Linked DNA regions of Homo sapiens: regions 1 and 3 are each linked to region 2. The links come from fine-mapping of genetic effects on gene expression. A gene starts in region 2. Each other region holds a variant in brackets. All regions are shown on one strand. Distances are from middle to middle.

The links.
Region 1: its variant is fine-mapped to the expression of THNSL1 in esophagus mucosa (GTEx, PIP 0.92).
Region 3: its variant is fine-mapped to the expression of THNSL1 in lymphoblastoid cells (TwinsUK, PIP 0.95).

Annotation. Positions count from the first base shown.
Region 1 is chr10:24,982,911-24,991,095 of GRCh38, forward strand. It overlaps ENKUR (enkurin, TRPC channel interacting protein), which reads right to left. Exons shown (of 6, transcript NM_145010.4): 4 at 7,553-7,699; 5 at 1,826-1,995; 6 at 1-1,466. The coding sequence ends at 1,460. It also overlaps a transcript of THNSL1 not described here. Among named protein-coding and RNA genes, the nearest start is that of ENKUR, 29 kb to the right of the region's middle. The variant G/A (reference allele first, on the strand shown) is at 4,239.
Region 2 is chr10:25,011,960-25,020,144 of GRCh38, forward strand. THNSL1 (threonine synthase like 1) reads left to right here and starts at 4,653. Exons shown (of 3, transcript NM_024838.5): 1 at 4,653-4,733. ENKUR (enkurin, TRPC channel interacting protein) reads right to left here and starts at 4,199. Exons shown (of 6, transcript NM_145010.4): 1 at 3,901-4,199. The coding sequence starts at 3,977. RefSeq lists silencers at 4,205-4,254, 4,585-4,784, 4,965-5,044 and enhancers at 4,328-5,090, 4,401-4,695, 5,295-5,374.
Region 3 is chr10:25,060,997-25,069,181 of GRCh38, forward strand. It overlaps a transcript of ENKUR not described here. Among named protein-coding and RNA genes, the nearest start is that of LINC01516, 48 kb to the right of the region's middle. RefSeq lists enhancers at 1-129, 721-1,920, 6,757-7,316, 6,934-8,133, 7,317-7,875. The variant C/CT (reference allele first, on the strand shown) is at 3,827.

The sequences.
Region 1 (8,185 bases), 29 kb before region 2:
AACTCCCACTCATGACTTCAAAGCATAATATCCATAAGGCTAAAGTAATCAGAATATTTTTGCATTGCTACTGATTTTGAATTATTTAAAAATGAGTATGTATAGCAATCATTTCACAAATAAAATACTTACCTAAACATCTCATCCTGAATTGGCAGAGAAAGACTGCCTGGATCAACAGAGTCACCAGACAAAAGGAGACTGGGTCCCTGAGTGACTGCATGGAACAGACTTATACCCCTACCCTTAGTCACATTGCACAGTGATGTAAATGAAAAATGTATCTTTATCAGGAAACTGAGATTTGGAGTTAGTTTGTTAAAGCAACTTAAGTTGCTTACTTAGCGATGCAAACGGGAATGATATGCATCATTTCTAGGCCTGGCCTGTACGTGCCTCTCCCTAACTCTGGATCAGATGCATCCTACCCACTCTGTAAGTCTGGGTCCCTGAGTGACTGCAGAAAAGGGTTCCTGCTGACCTGCTCACAGCAAAGTACTGCTATGTTAGCAAGAATTGAATATGTGTTTACGTAATTATACATTTTGGAGTGTACTGTCACAGCTGTTAGCCTACCCTAAATAGCAACCAACCATTCTTGGTAAGTGAGAATTTGTCATATATTATCCTTTATTTTATATCTGCCCTAAGTTAATAAAGGAATAAAGATACTCATATGGACAAGTTTCAAGTGAATTTTCAAAAAATAATTGTATATAAACTACTTTTCTTTAAGTAACCAAAATAAGCTTTTCTATAAGGCTTCCAAATTCTGTGTTTGTGAAAAAAGCCTGAAAGACTCCCATATTTTGTTTTTTATGTTGTCCAGAGGATAAAAACCAGTGTAAGCAGTAGAAATTGTTATTTCTCTGATATTTTATAGTTGCATATATTTTACCAAATTTTTCTAATTTAAAATTTCATAAAATAACCTTTTCCTTTTAGATATTTAGAGCTATTTTTTCTTATTTTTGGGTTGAAAACAGCTCTACTAACATAAACTTATTGCTTAATAGATTATGTAATCTTACAAATGTAACTTTAGAATTCACAAAATAGATAAGTAGAAAGGACCAAAAGGAAAAAAACATTTAAATAAGATATGCATAGTGAGTTGTGGAATAAAATAAGAGTATCGAGGTTGGTATGCTAGAAAGGAGGCTATTCTCCTTAATCATCCTCAATGATGCCTTTATAAGTTGTCATCTTGATTTTGTAAGTTGTCTTCTTAATTTTTCTTCCTCCAAATAGAAGCCTTTCATCATATACAGTGTTACGAATACTGAAAATATTTCTCACTGGGAATAACTGCAAATGTCATGGGCCACAGGAAAATACATCTTTTGCATTTGTGGAGCTCAGAAACAATGTGTTGGAGACAGTTTAGAGTAGCAAGAAGGCACGTGTTACTATTTCCAGTTCAAAATACTTAACAGTTTTCAAAGTTGTGCTGTTGGTATCATGCGCTGCAGAAAAAAAAAAAAAAAAGTGAAGTTCTGAGTGCTGACTTTATTTTTCAGGACCTAGAAATTAATGTTTATGTGAAACAAGTACATAATAATAATGAATTACATTGTGGAACTGGAACACATATTCTCAAATTTAATAGTTTATATGTGGAAAACGTGACACTAGTAAAAACAAAATTTCTTCTTGTGTAAGTGAATAACTCAATTATTCTTTGCATATTGCCTAAGCATTCTGATTAAGACTATTTTTATTCTCTTCATAGTATTTTCCTTTTTGAAAAACTTGGAGTTTTTTATATTTTCCATGTTTTTTTCCCCTACATTGAAATTGTTATACTTTAAAGATCCATTCTTACTTATTGGCAATATAAATAATCTTGTGCTTTTCAATTATGCCAATGTCGTGTTCTAGTTGTTTCATTTCTTCTTCCAGCCTCTGCTTGCGGATCTTCTTTGGTATAGAATCTATAAAGACCGAGAGGGACTGGAATTCTTTATGCACCTCTTCCCAGTTCTTTTTCAGCCCCTGCAAATGGTCAAGAAACTTGTAAATACCAAAGCAAACTGCAAAAGTAAAGGAAATGGGAAAAGCTAATTGGTAATGAAAAATGTCAATAAGTAAAAGAAACTGACAAAAATAACTTCTAAAATGAAATGTATTTATCAAGTACTTGGCCACGGTAACCAAAAATACTGTACAGAGGCCAAATCCCATCCTTGACTGTGTGCTCAGTTCCCACTGGGAGTATTTGTTTGCTCTGCTTTTGTTGTTACTGTACTTGTTTTTACCATCAAAAATGTACACGCAGAGTTATGAGTAGTGTGAAGCTAAAGCTCACAGCAAATGCATGGGTAAAAAACAACTTAGAATGATATCCTCGAGTCAAAAACATTTTTGAACAGAAAATTGTTTTGTAAAATTTTATTTTTTATCCTCATTCTTCAACAGACAAATCACATAAAAGACCTAATTCTGATGTGGATGGCTATATTTTCTTATATCTAACAAATGGGATTGTAAAATTGCCAAAATTCACTTGTACAAAAGATGATCTTCTAAGTGTCCTTTCAATATATTAGAAAGAACCAATTGCCCTCCATATAGTCAAGGGATCTACAGTTCCCATTAATGTATTCTATAAATGATTGAAAGGTCATTAAATGTAACACACATGCTAATTCAATAATGTAGCTAACAGTTTCTATTCTCAGAAATCAACAAATTCAAAATTAGGGATCTCTTAGGAGCAATAAAAGTTATTTCTGTTTCTGCATAATTATCATTTTTTTATCACAGTGCCCTATGGGCTCCACAGACAAAATGGTCTTAAACTAGTAATTAAATTAATTCAATGAAATTTTATAAGTCAACACTTTTTAATTATTCATTATGGGCACATAGATTATTTTATTTACACAAAAGCAAAACAGAAAGTGCAATTTAAGATACTGCCTTGACAGGTGAATTGCTTGAGCCCAGGAGTTCGAGACCAGTGTGGGCAACATGGCAAAACCCTGTCGCTACAAAAAATACAAAAAATAGCCAGGTGTGGTAGCATGGGCCTGTAGTCCCAGCTACCTGAGAGGCTGAGGTGGGAGGATCACCTGAGCTCAGGAGGTTGAGGCTGCAGTGAGCGATGATTGCGCCACTGCACTCCAGCCTGAAACAACAGAGCAGAGACCCTGCCTGAAAACAAAAACAAAACCAAAACTCCAAAACTTAAAATACTGCCTTGAAAACATGGTCTTTGAAAACTATGGCCATACATTTAGGTGTAAAAGAGGATTACAAGTGTCTTATATAATTATGCTGTCATAGTAAGCTCTTGTACAAATTTAATCTTGTAGAAACTTTCAGGGACAATACAATTTCACTGATTTATTTCCATGCTTAGATAAAAGGGATGATGACAGGTCAGGGCACACTGTATAGAAGAGGTTGGTTGGGGAAAAGGGCAACAAATTATGAGGCCTTCTTGAGTGAGCTAAGGATCTGGGAAAGGGAAAGGATAGAAGAAAAAGTATCCAGGTTAAATTTTAAAAAGAGGAGGCTACACAGTTCTTGACAGTGTATGCGATGTATTCCAAAAAGAAGCCCTCAAAAGAATTCTATTTCTCCACAGCCTTTCATTATGAAATGTGAAAGAGGTTCCCACAGTGCTCCACAGGAGTGGCTATTGCAGAGAGGAAGTCTATGTATTTGTACATTTGCGGATATCAAAGGTTTTTCATAGCTAGTTGGGTGATGTTTCCATATTACTTGCAGTCACAGCAGCTACAGTTTTTCTCTGTATTTTCTTTTAAAGGATAGTTTGCTTTTATCTTCCAGTGTGTACAATAACGTTTGGATCAAAGTCAACAGCCAGGGATGGAAACTAAATGTAGCTAATATTTCATATTATATTGAAATACGCTACGTGCTGACTTTAAGAGGTTTTTTCATTATTTCATCTAAAAAGATACTTCATGTGTTGCAGCAATAGTGATTTTCCCTTATTGTTAATTCTTAATTTTCCTCTCTTCTATTTTAAAGCTGAAATAATATCGTTCATTTTGGAAAAAATTCAGACAGGGAGAAGTGATCTTATAATAAGAAGTTTTCAGTTTCATGCTCCTTTTGCACCCTCGCCCACCCCCAAACATTCTCCACCTTGTGGGGTGCTCCCAGCTCTTTCGCCCTCTGGCCTGAGTTCAGCCACAGAAGGCCCTGGAGGGTGGAGAGTGAGGTTGGGGCATTTCTCCTCCTCTCCTAGGACAGTCTAGACATGG[G/A]TTCTAGCTGCATTCATCTGTGACTATGACCCTCAGCCCAGCTCCAGCTCTCACTGGATTCTGACAACACTGCTTCTTGTGCCTGCTGCCTTTCAAGCGTAGGTGGTGGTAAATTCCTACTGTCCCTGCTCCTGGGGTGCCTCAGTGCTTCTTGTTGGTTCCCTTAACCCTACTTCACTTCTGTCAATAATTCCTTCATAAATTCTCTTCAGTGGCCACTGCTCATGCCTGCAATCCCAACACTTTGAGAGGCTGAGGGAGGAGGATTGCTTGAGGCCAGGAATTTGAGACCAGCCTGGGCAACATAGTCAGACTCCCTCTCTAAAAATAAAAAAATGAAATAAAAAAAAATCAGCCAGGCATGGTGGTATCCCAGCTAGCAGTGAGCCGTGATTGTGCCACTGCACTCCAGCCTAGGCAACAGAGCAAGACTGTCTCAAATAAATACATAAAATAAACAAACATAAATTCTCTTCCAAGTCCTAGCTGAGTGTGCCTTCGATTTCCTGCTGGAGCCCTGACTGAAGTAGCCTCCCTTTGTTACCTCCTCTGCAAGTATGTGTTCTGTAGTGGGGGAAACACCAGCCTGGCAATTGGTAAATGAGTTTTAGTCCCTATTGATGTACTTGATAGTTTTGTGACCAAAGAGAAATGAAAATCAAACTCTAAGTTCACTGACACTGAGGACTGTGTTTATTTTGCTCTGTACAGTATCCCTCTGGCTGGAACACACTAGATATTCAATAAATAAATGAATGAACAAAGGGGCCCACAATGTATTTGTATTAACGGCTGGGCAGATTGGCTCACGCCTGTAATCCTAGCACTTTGGGAAGCCAAGGCGGGTGGATCACCTGAGGCCAGGAGTTTAAGACCAGCCTGGGCAACACAGCGAAACCCCATCTTTACTAAAAAATACAAAAAAATTAGGTGGGCGTGGTGGTGCATGCCTGTAGTTTCAGCTACTCGGGAGGCTGAGGCATGAGAATCATTTGAACTTGAGAGGTGGAGGTTGCAATGAGCCAAGATCATGCCACTGCACTTCAGCCTGGGTGACAGAGCAAGACTTCATCTCAAAAAAAAATGTATATATATATATATATGTGTATATATATATTTATATATATGTGTATATATATTTATATATGTATATATATTTATATGTGTGTATATATATTTATATATGTGTATATATATATTTATATATGTGTATATATATTTATATATGTATATATGTGTATATATTTATATATGTGTATATATATTTATATATAAGTAAAATTTATTTTTTATATTGTACATATGTTATATATAATTTATTTATATATAAAATACGTATAAATAGAGAATTTTGCAATTTAATTGGTGAGAGGAACTACGGATCTATGTACATGTAGAGATATGAATGTGTGTCTGTGTGCAGCTCCTCAGTTTCATAAGGTTCCAATGCACTAGTCACCACTGGAGGATTATAGATCTTTAGCTGGCCTGAAAATGTAGAGTGACACAGCATATGTATATATATATATATATATATATATATATATATATATATATATATATATATATATATATATATTCCTCATTTTAAAAATGAGAAGTTTGGAATCACTAGACCAGATGATCCTGTCCAGGTATAATGAGACTGTTATTTTATGAAGAATGAGCAGAATGTGGCTTACTCAGGGACATACAACCAGATTGTCATCGAACTACATGCAACTCTTGCCTAGGGAAGGAAGTGTGGCTCAGGGCTCGTCAGGAGGCCAGCCGGTGGCTTTGTTACTATGGCAGCTCTGCTCCCTGGCTCATAAGGCGTCCAGTGGATGATTTGCTATCATCACATCAAAGGGTAACTCTGTAGCGACCGTAATGGGAAGCTGAGGGCTGCTTATCTCCTACAGCCAAAAAGACACAGAAGGGAAGGACCTGTCACTTCTAAGTTCTTTGTCATATTCTTATTTTTCAGCATCATTTAGGTGTAAAAACCTGGCTTTCACAAAGGCACGTACTTTCTGAAAATGGGAAAATCCAAATGAGAGAGACAGAATGGGCCACAGACGAGAACTCTCCCTGAAAATGACATGCCAATTCTCACTTCCATGTCTGCCAGCCTTCCTTCCTGCCTGTCTGCCTTCCTCCTTTGCAGCAGACCATTTCTGAACATCTGCGTTTTCACTGGGCACTGTGCTAGGCACTGGGGATGCTGCTGTCAGCAAAGAGACACCGTCCTTGCCTTTGAGCCACTCCTACTGTCTGGGACATGCCGTCACTCTACATTTTCAGGCCCAGCTAACGATCTACAATCCTCCAGGGGTGACTAGTGCCTTGGAACCTTATGAAACTTAAGAGCTGCACACATACACATATTCACATCTATACATGTACATAGATCCATAGTACCTCTCACTAATTAAATTGCACAATACTCCACTGCAGATATTTTAAAAAATCTTATGCCTTTTAAAATATCCTCAGGGTTTAGCATTTAAGAAATGTTTATTGATGATTATGATGACATTGATAAAATGTTCAGAAGTTGTAACAGCATATGAATCCATTTTTCAACAGAGATTAATAATAAACTAGAAATGGCTTCGTGGGATGCTTTCAAAATGAAAAATAAACAAAGAATTAAGTATTATTTCTGCCTCTATAAGAGACAGTATGACTATAAAAAGTACAAAGAGGTGTTTAATTAAACGCTCATACAAATGATGAAGCAGAAACTCTTACACCCCCTAATATTTTAAATGCTTCAGATAAAAGCCCTGCATTAAAAAATCCAATATAAATATATCTTTAAGTCTATGTAATTAAAAACAAGAAAAACATATGTGAAACCTAGCACCTGTTTATTTAAAATTTTGGACATTTGCCTTATAGGAAAGGAAAAAAAGTTGTTTTAAGGACAGTTTCAATTATTCTAGAGCTCCATCTAGTGAAAAATATCTAATTTATGAATATTATTTTTCACAAACTCAGGGGCATAAAAATGAAAATAAAAATGCTTTATTTGCTTCATTTCATGCATGTTCGTTGTAGAGGAAGGTAGGCTTCCTTACAACACTAGTTCAGGAAAAAAACAGTTCACCAAATTGGAAATAAAATATTATTAAATGAATCCCTATATCACAACTTTTTGCTCTCTCCAAAGAGTCAGCTTTGCTGTATGTAGTTTTTAACTGTAACCCAAAGAGATTGTTCTGATTTCAAAATCCAAGTGCTGACTTTAATCATCAAAGTGATGGTACACCTTTCTTTCAGAGATGATCCAAAGAGTTACAGATGAATGTAAATGGCAGAACACACACCTGCAAAACTGCCTCCCTTTCTTCATCGGAGAGCCTTTTCATAGCTGCTTTCTTAAGGTTTTCCTGGATATAACGATCATAGTCTTCTTGGGCTTTCTTTATTTCCTCGTTTCGCTTACATATGTATTCAGGTGTGACACCATAATCCTAAAAAGATTTTGCAGAAAAAAGTAATCAATATTTTGTATGCAATCTTACATATGGGTACGTATCAACTGATGATGGAAGAAAAAGAAATGGTACAGACTAAATCCTTTGTTCAAAACCCTGTAAATTGACAAAATTCAGTGACTTTTTTCCCTCCATTGAGAGCTAGTAGATTCCTGCCTTTTAAAATGGAGTTGTTATTGCCCAGGCATAGTGGCTCACACCTGTAATCCCAGCACTTTGGGAGGCTGAGGGGTGGGGGGGTGGATCACTTGAGGTCAGGAGTTCGAGACCAGCCTGGCCAACATGGTGAAACCCCGTCTCTACTAAAAATACAGAAATTAGCCAGGCATCGTGGCATGTGCCAGTAGTCCCAGCTATTCGGGTGGCTGAGGCACAAAAATCTCTTGAATCTGGGAGGCAGAGGTTACAGTGAGCCAAGGTGCCACTGCACTCCAGCCTGGGTGTCAGAGTGTGACTCCATCT
Region 2 (8,185 bases):
GAGAAAAAATGGTTTCATGGGCTGGGCCCAGGGCCTTGCTGCTTTGTGCAATCTTGGGACTTGGTGCCCTGAGTCACAGCCATGGCTAAAAGGGGACAACGTAGAGCTCAGGCCATTGCTTCAGAGGGTGCGAGCCCCAAGCCTTGGTGGCTTCCACATGGTGTTGGGACTACGGGTGCACAGAAGTCAAGAATTGAGGTTTGGGAACCTCCACCTAGATTTCAAAGGTTGTATCAAAATGTCTGGATGTCTAGGCAAAGATGTGCTTCGGGGCAGAGCCCTCATGGAGAACCTCTGCTAGGGCAGTGTGGAAGGGAAATATGGGGTGGGAGCCCCCCACACAGAATTCCCACTGGGGCACTGCCTAGTGGAGCTGTGAGAAGAGGGCCACTGTTCTCCAGACCTCAGAATGGTAAATCCACTGAGAGCATGCACCATGCACCCAGAAAAGCTGCAGACACTCAATGCCCACCCATGAAAGCAGCCGGAATGGGGGCTGTACTGTGCCAGGTCACAGGGACAGAGCTGCCCAAGACCATAGGATCCCACCTCTTGCATCAGCGTGACCTGGATGTGAGACATGGAGTCAAAGGAGATCATTTTGGAACTTTAAGGTTTAATGACTGCCCTATTAGAATCTGGACTTGCAAGGGGCCTATAGCCCCTTTGTTTTGGCCAATTTCTGCTATTTCGAATGGTTATATTTACCCAATGCCTGGACCCCCATTGTATCTGGGAAGTACCTAACTTGCTTTTGATTTTATATGCTTGTAGGCAGAAGGGACTTGCCTGGTCTCAAATGAGACTTTGAACTGTGGACTTCTGAGTTAATGCTGAAATGAGTTAAGACTTTGGGGGACTGTTGGGAAGGTATGATTGGTTTTGAAATGTGAGGACATGAGATCTGGGAGGGGCTGGGGTAGAATGATATGGTTTGGCTGCATCCCCACGCAAATCTCACATTAAATTGATGAGATCCCATAATTCCCATATGTCATGGGAGGGATCTGGTGATAGGTAATTGAATCATGGGAGTGGGTCTTTCCTGTGCTGCTCTCATGATAGTGAATAAGTCTCATGAGATCTGATGGTTTTATAAAGGGGAGTTCCCCTGCACACACTCTCTTTCCTGCCACCATGTAAGATGTGACTTTGCTCCGCCTTTGCCTTCTGCCATGATTGTAAGGCTTCCTCAGCCATGTGAAACTGTGAGTCAATTAAACTTCTTTTGAAATATAAATTACCCAGTCTCGAGTATGTCTTTATTAGCAGCGTGAGAACAGACTAATATACTATGTTCTATGATAGATAAGAGATATAAAAGACATATTTATTAAATTTGCAAATGACACAAAAAGAATGGTTAACAGAATGTATAAAAGATTCAAATGCAAAACTATCTCCATAGATTAATGAGTTGAGATAAAAAAGAATCAGCTACATAATTAGAGGATGGGAGAGACCAACCTTAGTCAAAATCCATACAGGGTATTTTAGTGTGAGCCAATAGTTGGACATGACTGTCAAAATGCTTATGGAAGCTTAGGCTGAATGGATGAAAATATTGTGCCAAGAATTATGGAAAGGAGATAATGGTTTCATGGACTGTTCAGACCATAACTGGAATATTGCTTTAAACAAAATGGAAAGAGGGGATGACTGGAGATATTCAATAACTGCAGACATCAATAAAGGGTGATAGGCCAGGCGTGGTGGCTCACGCCTATAATCATAGCACTTTGGGAGGCAGAGGTGGGTGGATTACTGGAGGTCAGGAGGTCAAGACCAGCCTGGCCACCATGGTGAAACCCCATCCCTACTAAAAATACAAAATTAGCCAGGCATGGTAGCAGGGACCTGTAATCCCAGCTACTCGGGAGGCTGAGGCAGGAGAATCGCTTGAACCCAGGAGGCAGAAGCTGCAGTGAGCCAAGATGGCGCCATTGCACTCCAGCCTGGGCAAAAAGAGTGAAACTCCGTCTTGAAAAAAAAGTAATTAAAAAAAAAAGGGTGACAGATTTGGTGAAAATCTTGGAAACCATCTTATGCATCATGAGTAACTCAAATTTTGAAAACTGAATCATGACTTCCCATTGACTCTGAGGCTTTCATAACTTAAGTCTCAGCCAATAGTTCAACTGCAGAAAAGTGCCTTTCATCCGATTTTGGTCACATACATTCATCTTCTAAGTTCTCATTTAGTATCTTCATCTCTCATTATGGTTTTCAATGATAAATTTTAGTGTTCATATTTCAGTTCCCCAAAAAGACGGTAAACTCTGAGGCGTGGGAGATCAAAAGCCAGGCAGTTGTCAGAATCTTGCCAGTGTAAATTGACTTTAACCTAACAGAAATGATTCTTTTGGCATCACATTTGGGTGCCTCTATTTCCTCTAATCATAAATCTTTCTTCTACTCATTTCTTCATAGTAAAACCAAGAAGTCTGTGCTATCACTCCAACAGCACCAAGAACAGATATACTAGTGCAATATTATACACATAATAGGGGCTCCATTAATGCTTGCCAAATGAATAAAGACTGTTCCTATAAATTTTTTTTGAAAAAAAAAATCGTCTAGATGCAGTAAAGCTTTTTAATTTGCCAAAGAACAGAATACCTACCTAATAAAATAACTCTCAAATTCAATATTCTATAGAAATACAATCTACCAATCTGTTATAGAGGAGTTTTATCTCATGTAATATGCAGGAATTTGAAACCAAAAGTTGGTGCAACAATAGAAAATTTGAAAATAAATTCTGCAACTGTGCCATAACTTACTTTACATTCCTCTTTCCAGTCTCTAGATGTTGATATGCTAATGGAGATGTAATACAGTTACTGCTCTAATTTAAACCAGATACTTAAAATTGAAGAAGCTGCCTACTTGTTGAAGCTATTACCCTAATACTAGTAAAAATAATTGACCATTAGATCTAAAAGGGGCCTTGGATATTATCTGGTACATTTATCTCACAGATCAGTAAACAAATGAAACTTTATTCTAAAGTTCACAAAGACAATTAATTGCTAGGCCCGATTTTTAGTCCAGTCCTTTTCAAATGTGGTTTTGACTTGCATACGGACAAGGATGATGGTAAAAGACAGGAAACATTTCAAGTCCTAGGAGAAATGAGATTTTCTCCACTACTTTCTTTGCTCCCCACAGATTTAAGTAAGTTCTAAGAAGTCCCTACAGATGGGAGTAACTGAAGTGCTTCCTTTGCACGTTTTTGAGATTTGGAGAATTTAAGAGGTTCTAAGACCTATGTAAAATTTCAACTCAATTACATATTTTTTGGTTCATTATCTATCCACCAATTCTTCCTTCCATTTAAACCATTAGATCTGAAAAAGTCCTTAGAAACTGCCTAATAGTGGTAGATATTTCGTTTCACTGATCAAAAACCTGAGGCTCAAAAGCAAATGTAAATTTATATTTCATAAAAATCTTGGGGGAAAAGTCCTATCCTATCCCATTAGAGAGGGAGTAGTGCAGTTAGAAATACAACACCGAACTCCTGAAACCAAACATCAAGTATCCTTAAACAAGATAATAGAATTGTGATTTTTTTCTTTTCAACATGAAACTTCATACTATGCTGTATATCACATATAATTAAATTACACAATAATCACATACCGTATTAATAAGAGGTTAAGTGTAATATAATAAAATGGTCATCTCACAGCGCCAGACTGCCCTCTCTGTAAAACTGTGAGATGCTGAATACCTAGATATTTCGACCTTTTCTCTAACAAGTTATCCTCCAAGGCTACTTCATCGAGGCAAAAATACATTTTATTTATTATTAAAAATTCCAGTATATGTATGCTTAATTAATACTGAGTATTCCCCATTCTTGTTTCAAGTGATAGTCTTTGCTTATCCACATACCTAGGAGGCTGGGGAGGCTCCTTCAAGTCACTGGGTATGAGGTTATAAATGCACTCAGAAGAGCACGTTGGATCCATGGCCACCAAATGACTCCTTAAAAGCTACTCTCCACAACTTTTTTCTCCCTGTCCCAGTATCTCCGTCCCTTTCTTCACTGCTTCCCCTTTCTTTCTTCTTCGCCTTCTGAAGGACCACAGGTTCTCTCCTTCACATCGTCCCCCTTTAACCCCCTCTTAGCAGTCCTCTCTCGGGAAGAAAACACCCTATTTCTCTCCGGATTGCTAAGCGTCGTTGACTGTGCGGTTGCCGTGGAAACCGTTACTAGGCAACGAGGAAGTGGCAGGCAGCACCGCAAACTAGGTCTCCCCTCTTCCCTCTTTCTGCAGCGCCTTCTGCTAGAGAAGCTCATTTGGAAGCCACTGTTTTTACGTGCCTTTGAAAGTTAACGGGGTGAAAATGATGTCCCCTTAAAAACTGTGCTCTTTTCTATTTCTGTGTATCTGGGGAAAAAAGAAAAATCCTAGTAGAGACGGCAAAGCGCAGCTGGTGCGCAGGCGTCACCCAATAAGGTTTTTGTGAGCAGGCCCCAATCGCGGTGTGGGCGGAGCGAGCGGCTGAGACCACGAGGACGCAAGGCCAGCGCCGCCAGGGAGACGAGGGAGGGGAGGAGCCTGAGGAGATCGGAGTGCTCGGATAGGCTACAGTGAGAAAGGAGAGTCACGTGCCCTGCGCGAGGCCGCTCGGGGAAGGGCGTGGAGCGGAGGCACGCTGGCCGCCGCAGGCACAGGCGCAGAGTCCACTGCGCGGGGGCGGGACCGGGGAGCTAGCTGCAGGTACGGTGCTCCGTCTCCTGTGGAGGCTTTAGCGGCTCGTGGACACTGCTCCCCCATTTCCTTTCATTTCCCCCGTCTTCTCAGTGAGATTTCCTTGGTGAGTTATTGGAGGAGAAAGGAAGGAAAACTAGAAGCCAGCCCGCTCCCATCGCATGCCTTTCCCCGTACCGTCCCTTCCCCTTTCCGCTACTCGCTGGTCATCTCAACTCTGCGCGCATTTTTCCTGCTGCTTCTGGTCGAGGCTCCTCGGAACGCCGCGCAGCCCTGCCCGCCACGTGTGTGAGTGCGCGCACGGGGCCCGCGGCCTCCTCCGCCTGCTGCGCTCGCCCTCCCGCCCCTGCTCCCGGGACCGCCCCTTGGGCGGTCCTCCGGGTCGGCTCTGCGCCTGCTCTTCCCCGGGTCGGGACTCTTCCTCTAGGTCGTTCTCCAGGAACCAGTGGACCTGCTCTTTGTAAATGAGCAGCCTAAACTAAGAGGAGAAGCCTTTTAAGTGGGCCTTTACGTTTTTGTCCAGTTTTTGGTGTCCCTTGTTGGAAAATTGTCTTCTGAGAAGCGGTTTTATTCCTTTTTGTTCCACCTGGTCACCCGTAAATCTATGCACATGGGCCTGCCGTAGGAAAGTCATTTAGACGCTTTTACCCGAGTGTTTAAAAGACATTTTGGTAATAGGATTTGGGGAGGAAGATGGATGCCTCTGAACCACCGGTACAGAGGCCACTCTGCCCGAAGGAAATAAAGCTTCCCGGAGAGGAGAGAAAACACACTTGAGTCTGGGTTTCTCACTGCCTGGTTGGCTGGCGGAGTGATTAAAACAACACAATGGCCTGGTGAACCTTTTAGTTCCTGTATAAAAAGGCTTTACTGAATGTGTAGGTCCTTACTTTGGGCTCTTACTGAATTTCACTACATAAGAATACGTTAAGTTTTTCTTTTTTTTTTTTTTGTATACAGTTGATTTTAATTTTTGTCCCAGACGCTTAGGGAAAATTCTCCAGATTTCTTCACATCAGATTGTCTTCCAAAACATTTTAGATAGATGGATCTGTAGATCTATATTTAGATCTAGATCCAAATCTATATCACTTTGCCCCTTTCTTTTCGCCCTTGAGTATTTTATGTTTGGGATTTCTGTTTAGCAAGTATAGAGAAAAAATTTGGCGGGAAACCTCCTGTATGTACGAAGATTCGAACCAAGGACTCATGGAATGATAACGCCATTAGCCAAGTGGATAGTCACTGGCTAAAGCTTATGAATTTTCTAATTAGAAGGAACACCTTGAGACTATTTGTGTTAATCAGTTCCTGAAATAGCAAGTAAGGGCAAAACATGATTTCTGCAGTTAGCACCAACTGGCCTTTGGTAGCCTTGATGTTCTGGGGTTACTGAAATAAAATAATTTCACTGATGTCTGTATATTTATTATGCTTTAAAAAATGCTAAACAATTTGTGCAAGACCTCACTGTGGTATAGTTAGTTTACAGCCATGAGCAGGTTGTTAAATCATTTGGAAAAAAACTTTTCTTTTTTCTTAGACATTTGATCTGCAATTCTCCTTGCCTTTTGAAAGTGTGTTTAAGCAAAATTATTTCTAGTTTTTATAATGCTCTTGAAATGACACTTCAAAAAAATGCCTGTGTCCACCGCATGTCCACAGGGAATTAACTGGTATATACCTACAGGGATGAACAAACTGTCTATAAAGGGGTAGACAGTAAATATTTCAGGCCTTTTTAGGCCAAGTGGTTATGTTGCAACTACTCAGTTTTGCCATTGTAGCTCAAAAGCAGCCAAAGACGGTACTGAACAAATATGTGAGCACATGAATGACTGAAGTTGTGCTTCAAAGAAACTTGATTTATGAAAATGATGGTGGGCCAGATTTAGCCTGTGGATTGTAGTTTGCACAGATCCTAGATCCCCGTATATAATGGTATGCCTGTGATGTACATAAACAAATGAGAGTTGTTTTTTTTTTTTTTTTTTTTGCGAAGGATTATTTTAATCTATTTAAATGAATAAAATGGGTGTAGATGAGTATATAAGACAATTGGAAGGTAAATAAACCCTTTATAAAGACAGGTTCTTTATAATTCTCAAAGTTATAGAATTGTGGATACTAAAGTTTTCAATTAAATATTCGAGATCGTTAAGAATATGTCTAACAGCAGAAGTCTAACGGCAGAAAAAGCTTAGTCAGCTTTGATAGTAATATAAAGACTAAGTGATGAACTTGCAAAATTGTTTTAGTTGTGAGATCCTTGTGATTACAGAACTATACTGGATTGTGTGGTCCTTCCACCCTCACCTCTGTTTCATGGCAAGTGGGAGGCCCTCTGAATGAAAAGTTTGAGAGAATTTTTGGTCAGAAGTCAGAAGCAGTAGAGCTTAACCTCCTTTTGGCTAGTTTGTGTCCTGATACACAGTTAGTTCTCCATATCTGTGAATTTCCCATTCTCAGATTCAACTAATTACAGATTGAAAATATTTTAAAATTTTAGTTGGGCACAGTGGCTCATACCTGCAATCCAAGCACTTTTTGAAGGCCAAGGCAGGAAGACTGCTTGAGCCCAGGAGTTGGAGACCAGCCTGGGCAACATGGCGAAACCCCCTCTCTACTAAAAATACTAAAATTAGCTGGGTGTGGTGGTGCGTGCCTTTAGTCCCAGCTACTTGGGAGGCTGAGGTGGGAGGATTGCTTGAGCCTAGGAAGTCAAGGCTGTAGTGAGCCAAGATTGTGCCACTGCACTCCTGCCTGGGCAACAGAGTGGGAGCCTGTCTGAAAAACAAACAAAAACACGAAAATAATGGAACAGTAAAAATACCACAAACAAAAAAGCAAATTAGTACAACAGCTCTGTACCTAGCATTTGCATTGTATTATGTATTATAAGTTATTCAGAGATTAAGGTATACAGGAGGATGTGCACAGGTTATATGCAAATACTACACCATTTTATATAAAGGACTTGCACATCTGCAGATTTTTCTCACTCTAAAGTCAGTCCTATTAACTGCTAATTATCCAATATCCCTCTCAATGCTTAATCCAAATAATTGTTAAACACATGAAAGAGAAGAGTGTCAAGACCAAAAGCCTTGGAGTGCACTACCAGAAATTTCCCTCTATTCAACAGAACCATTTTTATGATCATTCAACAATATCCTCAAATCTTTTTTTTCCATTTCTCCGTGAATTAAAAAAATTTTAAATGAACCATGTGTAATGCTTTGGTGAAGTCCATATATATGCCTTCTATGTATATTCCCGAGTGGCCATTGCAGCAGACGTTCTCAAAAAAGAAATGAGGATGTCTTTTCCTCATTTGGTTGGTTAAAAAATGTTGAGCCCCTAAAATCAATTTGTGGTTAAATGTTACAAAATAAAATTTAGTATGTAGCTTAAAATAGAATATATCTTTATTGTTCTTTAGAAATAATATATATTATAGC
Region 3 (8,185 bases), 49 kb after region 2:
AGCCACTGGGCCTGGCCCTTATGTTTCTTTAGATGAGACAAGGATATCTCTAAGGCCCCCTATTAGGCTGGCTGCCCAGATGCAAAACCTGTGAACACAAGAATGTCAGTATTACCTGGGGAGCCACCTCCAGTCACCCGCTCTGTCTTCATGCTCCGTGGTGAACAATCTCCATAAGAAGTTCATAGGTGTTGGACACGTGTGGCCAGGCCCTGGGCTTTGAAATCGACCCTGGTTTGCAGCTATATGGTTGATGCTGCCAGACACATCCAGATATGGAAAATCAACTTTATCCCAGGCTTTCTTGTGCCGCTCCTCCAGCCGCCTGCTCTGTTGGGTGCAGCTCCTTCTGTTCCATTTTGCTTCATGGGCTCTGGAAGGAGGAGTAACAGTGCACAGATGGCAAGGTGGAACCTCCCAACACAAACTGAATCTCTTCCTCCTTCTGCTCCTCATTGCCTGAGCCTACTGTTCTCCCCCGCCACCACCATTTCTATTTTCAGGAAAAAAAGGAAAAAACTTTGGTGATCTACAAGCTTTGGGTGACTTTTCCTTTGAGCAGGATAACCAGAGCAGCTAGGTGATTTTCCAAATGCTGGCTATGGCTAAACCCAGTCTCAAACAAAATCGGAAAATCAACATGTTTCTCTTCAGATTTTCCAACAACCCCTTTCTTCATCTCTCTCCAACCTACAAGCTGCCCTTCTCCACCTGACATCCCAGTAGTGGGTGACTTCCAGCAGCTGGAGGCACTTCCCACCTTCCCCAGACCTAGGCCTGCACATTCTTCTCTCCCTTCATCTCTGTCTCTTCAGTCTGAGAAGTTAGTCTGAGGCGTGACTGCTGCATCATCAATGACTGCGTTAGAAACCCCAGCGATTCACTGCTATGTTCTTTATATGTAGGATAGTTACTGGCACATGGAAGGCACCCAATATGTATTTGCTGAGTCAGACTGCAAAAGTGTGCAACTGGCTGAGACTCTTGGGGGTATTTGCACAGAGAAATAACGTAACGATAACGACTACTAGCTAACTGCCATTTACTAGTCACTTTACACAGTCTAAAAGCAGGATCTCGACATTTCTAACAGCTTGATGACCTCATATTTAATGTGGTTTTGTACAGAAATTTCCCTGGAACCCCACACATGACATTGTTTGGAGCGACTCCTTCCTTGCTTACCTATAAGCCTAATCCTGCGTATTGAGTCATTCTCTTCTTGAGCAAGTAGGACTTGTTGCTCTCTTGTCACTTTTCCACCAGTGTTCCTCTCTTAAGGGAGAGAAAAAGTTAAACATGCCTGCTTTTCAGTGTCTATAGACGATTGTGGAATGTTTGAGGAAAACCTTGGACTTTTTCACAGCCACTCCCTGTCTGGGCAGCCTCGGGTCAGCCTCCTCCTGCAGTTTTTCTTTCTGTTTTTCCCCTCTGTGTGTCCCTCCTAAGAATGTGGTCCTATTTCCTGGAGCAGGAGCCTGTCTGCAGGCATGGCTGGGAAGGAAGCCCTGGCCATGAGCTGGGCTGATGGCACCTCTGGAGCTGGCTTTCCGGCAGCTGGTGACACAGCGGGTCTGGCCTCATTCATTACTAATTGTTGACGCTGTGTTCGGAGGAACGTGTTAGTAACAGCACGTACCTTGATCAGCCACACTCAGGCCTGGGTGGAGGAGATAGGTGGTGACTCACACAGTGGTGGAAGAGGGCCTGGTCACCTGGGCTGCCCGAAAATGACAGGAAAGGCAGGGCCAGGAAAGGAAATCCCCCTGCACATCACCTCCCTCCCCTTCCCACTGCATGCTCCACCCCTGCACCACAGGCACTTGCTTCTCACTCCTCTGTGTTTTTTTGTGGTTTTTTTTTTTGTTTTTTTTTTTTTTCAGATGGAGTCTTGCTCTGTTGCCCAGGCTGGAGTGCAGTGGCGCAATCTTGGCTCACTGCAACCTCCGCCTCCCGGGTTCAAGCTATTCTCCTGGCTCAGCCTCCCAAGGAGCTGGGACTACAGATGTGCGCCACCACACCTGGCTATTTTTTTTGTATTTTAGTAGAGATGGGTTTCACCACGTTGGCCAGAATGGTCTCGATCTCCTGACCTTGTGATCTTCCTGCCTCAGCCTCCCAAAGTGCTGGGATTACAGGCATGAGCCACTGTGTCTGGTCTTTTTTTTTTTTAAGAGTCTCACTCTGCTGCCCAGGCTGGAGTGTAGTGGCATCATCATAGCTCACTGCAGTCTCAAACTCCTGGACTCAAGAAATCCTCTTGCCTCAGCCTCCTGAATAGCTGGAACTACAGGTGTGTTCACCATGCCTGACTAAGTACTTAAAAAATTTTTTGTAGAGATGCGGTCTCACTATGTTGCCTAGGCTGGTCTCAAACTCCTGACTTCAAGCCATCCTCCCATCTCAGCCTCCCACAGCAATGGGATCACAGGTGTGAGCCAGCATGCCTGGCTCCTGTGTTTTTACTTGTCATTCCCTGTGCTTATAATGCTCCTCCCTCAAATCTGTATTGGTTTAGTCTTCCTTGTGCATCAAAGCCCCATTCAAATATTTTCTCCCCTTTGAGACTTTCTCCTGTTCCCCCTTGCAATTGAGAAGCCCTTTGTGCAAAACCACACTCTGTAGACAATTACTAAATTGAGTCATAGTTGCTCTGATGTGTCCCAGTTGCCAGCAGATTTGGACTACTTGAGGACCGGGGCTCTCCCGTGTCCATCTTTGTTCCCACTTTACCTAACCAGGAGCTGCCAATAACAGACACTCACTAAATGTTCATGGGCAGATTGTGGAATGAGGCAGGCACACTCTGCAAGGGACAAGTGACACCGGCTCAATAGGTCGGACGTGCGCAGATGGTTTGAGAGCAAAGTCTGTAACTCTGGAGTGTTTTCCATCTTCAAGCCCCCTCAAAATCTATTTGCTCTTCCCAGAAAGATTCTTGCCATATATTTGGTGGTTGGAGTGGTCTTGTCACCGGCCTTCAAGAACACTGATTATTGTTTGAAGGGTACACCGCCATTGAAAGAGTAGCTGATTTCCTCAGCCACCGTGCGTGTGTCAATAAGATTTTATAAAGTACCTGTCTCAGTGCTCAGCTTTATAAGAAATGAAGTGGAGGATTCAAAAGGGGTAGAAGACATAGACTCCACTCCTGTAGACCACAAAGCCTCGTCCAAAAGAGAACATGGCTGAAATGAGAACATGTGAATCACCAATGGTAGACCTGTGGTGGCAAGGGGAGAATCACTCAATGTTTTCAAATAAAGAAATTCCTGCTTGTCATTTCCCTGGCTCTTTCTATATGAACTTGTTCATGTTCGAAACAGCTTGACTGAAAATCAGTACTTGCAGTTAAGAACACTTTATTTTTAAGTTTTTTTGAACTTTATTTTTTATTTTTGTAGAGATAAGGGGTCTCCCTGTGTTGCTAGGCTGGTCTCGAACTCCTGGGCTCAAGAGATCCTCCCAGCACAGCCTCCCAAAGTGCTGGGATGACAGGTATGAGCCACTGCACCCATCATTGCTCTTAATTCAGATTGAGGTGTTGATTCACGGGGCAAGATGGAATGGCATGAAGGAAACTCAGTGGGAAGGATGAAACAGAGGCAGAGAATGGTTAAGAGATTCTTGTTGTAGTTCAGCCAGGAGGCTACAGGGACTAGACTAGGCTACAGGGACTAGACTAGGCTGTCATAGGGAGAGAAATAGAAGGAGTGGCCCAGATAACTGGTTGCAACCTCTCCTAACTCCCAAAGAAGGAGGGAAGGGTAAAATTTTGCCAGGATAAAGAGAGGATGACCAAAGAAACAGAGCTCCAAAGAAGGGA[C/CT]TTTTTTTTTTTTAAAAAATCACTGAAGGCTACCATTATATTTGATTTATTTTTATTTTATTTTACTTTTTGAGACAGTGTCTCACTCTGTCACCCAGGCTGGTGTGCAGTGGTGCAATCATGGCTCACTGCAACCTCTGCCTCCCGAGTTCAAGCAATTCTCATGACTCAGCCTCCCAAGTAGCTGGGATTACTGGCAGCTGTCACCACACCTGGCTAATTTTTGTATTTTTAGTAGAGATGGGGTTTTACCATTTGGCCTTGAACTCCTGACCTCAGGTGATCCATCCGCCTCGGCCTCCGAAAGTGCTGGGATTACAGCCATTAGCCACCGTGCCTGGCCCTTTCATTCTTCAAGTAAGAATCGTTTTACACTGACTTCCTCTCTGTCTGGGGCTGGGGATTTGTATAGGAGGCGGTGATGTGGTTTGCATCTGTGTCCCCACCCAAATCTCATGTTGAATTGTAATCCCCAGTGTTGAAGTTTGGGCCTGGTGGGAGGTGACTGGCTCATGGGGTGAATTTGTCATGAATGCTTTAGCACCATCCTCCTTGGTACTGTCCTTGCAACAGTGAGTGAGTTCTCGTGAGATTTGGTGATCTTAAAGTGTGTGGCCCCTCCCACCTCTCTCACTCCTGCTCCCTCCATGTAGGACACTTACTCCTCCTTTGCCTTCCACCATTATTGGAAGCTTCCTGAGGCCTTCCCAGAAGCAGAAGCTGTTATGCTTCCTGTGCAGCCTGCAGGACCGTGAGCCAATTAAACCTCTTTTCTTTATAAATTACCCCATCTCAGATATTTCTTCATAGTAACACAGAAACAGACTAATACAGGTAGTAAGGAGGAAACAAATTCCACAGGAAAACTGTACTTCTGCTTGAAATCTCAACTGCCCCTAGTTTTGCATCTGTGTCTTCTTAGTCCTGGAAGAAATTTGATCCCTAGGCCCTTGTTCTGCTCTCTGCCCTTGAGTTCCATCCACAAGTCCCTACTCTACTCTCCACAGGAAGAGGCTACTGAACTTGATGTTGGAATTGATCCTAATGTACAGACCTAACCCTCAGAGAAAGTTTGACCCACCCGTGGGGAGATGGAGTCATGACTCCAGAAGATTCTCCAGCACGCTCCTTCCCTGGGGTTGTAAGGGTGCCTGAAAGTGGAAGCTCATAGATTCTTAGAGTTGAAAGGCCCATGTGCAGGGCATCTTCTTCAGTCCCCACCCTGTATAGGAATCTCTTCCTTAACATCCTTGCCAGGCAGCAACAACCTCAGCCAAACATTACCAGGAACAAGGTTAGACAGAGCAGGGACCCCCCATAGGGGCCTGCCAGTCACCCCAACAATCTTCCCAAGCATGGAAAGAAAGAAAAATTTAGAGTTCATTCAAGGGAAGTTCCAGGAACCTAGCTAGCCTTGAGAAGTAGATGAGGAACTTTATAATCGAGAAGATTTGCTGAGTATGTAAACCTGAACATCCTGCACATGTACCTGGGAACTCAAAATTTTTAAAAAAAGATTATATCAACCCTCTGTCAGAAGACATCATGAAAAAAAATACAAAACATTTAAAAAGGTAATAGCTTAAAACAATCACCAAGGAAGTTAGAGTCACAAAATGTTTTGTGACTATAGAAACTATAGAAACTAAAGACGACATCTTAACATGCGTCCCTGAGCTGTTTTTCAGAAACCCAGACGCCACCGAATGGAAAATACCATCTGCTAGAATGTAGACCTCAGAGAAGGGGAAGCTGAGGACTGAACTCTGACCGCCATTCTTTATCTAAATTTCTTCCTGGGGTCCTGGAGGAGGTCACACCCACGAGCCAGAGCTAACATTCTTTTCTGCTGGCCCCAAATTTTTAGAGAAAGCTTCAGCTCCTTAACCAATCTCAAATCAGAAAATCTTCTAATCTGGCCGGGCGTGGTGGCTCATGCCTGTAATCCCAGCACTTTGGGAGACCGAGGTGGTGGATCACCTGAGGTCAGGAGTTCGAGACCAGCCTGGCCAACATGGTGAAACCCCGTTTCTACTAAAAATACAAAAGTGGCCAGGCATGGTGGTGTGCTTCTGTTATCCCAGCTACTTGGGAGGCTGAGGTAGGAGACTCACTTGAACCCAGGAGGCAGAGGTTGCAGTGAGCCAAGATCGCATCATTGTACTCCAGTCTGGGCAAAAAGAGTGAAACTCGTCTCAAAGTAAAATAAAATATCTTCTAATCTACCCCAGCATACCTGCTTTGAGATGTTCCCCCTTTTTAGGTCAAACCAATATGTCGCCTTCATGTATTGATTTATGGCTTTGCTTGTCACCTCTGGCTCCCCACCTTTGAAGTCCCTTACCTGTAAACTGTCAGGGAATTCACATCTTAACCACATGCTGTCAATTCTCCTTCCTGGGCATCCTGCAATAAATCTCCCACTTTCTCTTGCTGCAATCCTGATGTGAGTATTGGCTTTGCAGAGCCCAGTGCGTGGACCCAAGGTTGGTTCAGTAACAAAGGAAATCAGGACCATTTAGGCCACTGTTGGACATTCCCAAGACCAGAAAATTCTTTATTTTAAGCTAAAATCCAATTTGAAATGAATTGACATTATGAAAAATTTATTTATTTTATTGCAATATTTTGCCCTAAAAAAAAATAATTTTAGATTGCACTGAAAGGCACATAATATTTTAGAAAGCTCCAGGCATGGTGGCTCATGCCTGTAATCCCAGCACTTTGGGAGGCTGAAGCAAGCAGATCACTTGAGGTCGGGAGTTCAAGACCACCCTGGCCAACATGGTAAAACCCTGTCTCTACTAACAAAAATACAAAAATTAGCTGGGCATGGTGGCGAGCGCCTGTAGTTCCAGCTATTCTGGAGGTTAAGGCAGGAGAATCACTTGAACCCATAGGCGGAGGTTGCAGTGAGCCAAGATTGTGTCATTGCACTCCAGCCTGGACAAGAGAGCGAGACTCTATTTCCAAAAAAATATATTTTAGAAAGGGATGAGGGAGTTCATAATCCTCCTGAAATTATGTAATTATGTACAAAAGTATGTATATGCGTATGTGCTCTTCGTTTTTTCTTTTTTCTGCATATTGGGTCCAGAGCTTTCATGGGACACCTAAGGGTCCTCAGTGATTCTGTGCTATCCCAGAAGTGTGATGTTGAGTTGAAGGTGTCACACTTAAACAAAATACAGACAGGCCACATCTCACTCAGGGGGAGGCATCCTGGCTCCATCAGCTTGCCCAGGGTGGCAGGGTCTTCTCTTTAGCCCAGAATAAGTACCCTTTCCCAATCAGAGCCCAGTGAATGTGCCATCTGTCTCAAGCCCAGCCACATAAAATCATGATGCTACCCGGGGCCTTTGTTTCGGGTAGTGCTCTTATTTTTCAGGGTGGCAGCCTGTCTGCGCCTTGACTCCTCTACGTCAGCACTGCTCAGCTATGGAAAAGTCATGAGGGATAATGGTGGTGTTTGTAGAGCCAGCATGTGTCATGTGGGTTTTCAGACAAAGGGATACAGAGACTCATGCTTTACTAACTCATCATCTGCATACCCATTCGGGAAGAGGAAATGACTGGGGCCACATCACTCCAAGCTTGTCTCTACTTGTCCTTGTGACGAGTATCTCACGCACACAAAGGGACACTTTTTTCTCTTGTTTTCACTAGCAAGTCCTATGTAGGGATGACATCATCTCTGTGCTGATTTACTTTAAAATACTTTCGTGCAATCGACACCCTAGGAGGAGGGAGGAAGGAGGAGGTATTTGAAGTACCCTAATCAGACATCCACGTTCCAAGAGTTGTTAGTTAGCATTTGAAACATCCTAATTAGGGATCCACACTTAGGAGGGGGTTACTTAGCACTTCAAATATTGTTATTGAAATCTACCCCACAAACGGTGTGTTCATTAGCATAAGAGATGGTGGAAGTAAAAATTTCCCTGGTGGAATGGTAGCTTTCAAGGGATGATTTTGACTGGAAAGAGTGTGCTTCCCACCACCCCAGCTGGAACAAGGTTTAAGAATGCAGCAAGCCAAAGACAATACTCCCATAGACAAACTACAGGTACAGAGCCCCATGCTTCCTGAGGCCCCTACATCCCCCCTTTCATACTGTATGTAGGACTCTGTTGTCCTGTCTTTAAAATATGGTGGCATTCCATTGCAGTGTACATTTTTATGTGCATTTTCAGTGCAAGGTGCTTACCAGAGTGTCCAGGATCAGAGAGCAGGACTAGACATCAACAGGTGAATGAGAGTTTCTGTGCCTGCTCACTAAGTCTTGCTTTCACCAGCTAATAAATGCTGAAACCTAGTGAGTAGTGACTACCTGTCACTAACTGCTGTTTAGTCCCCTGT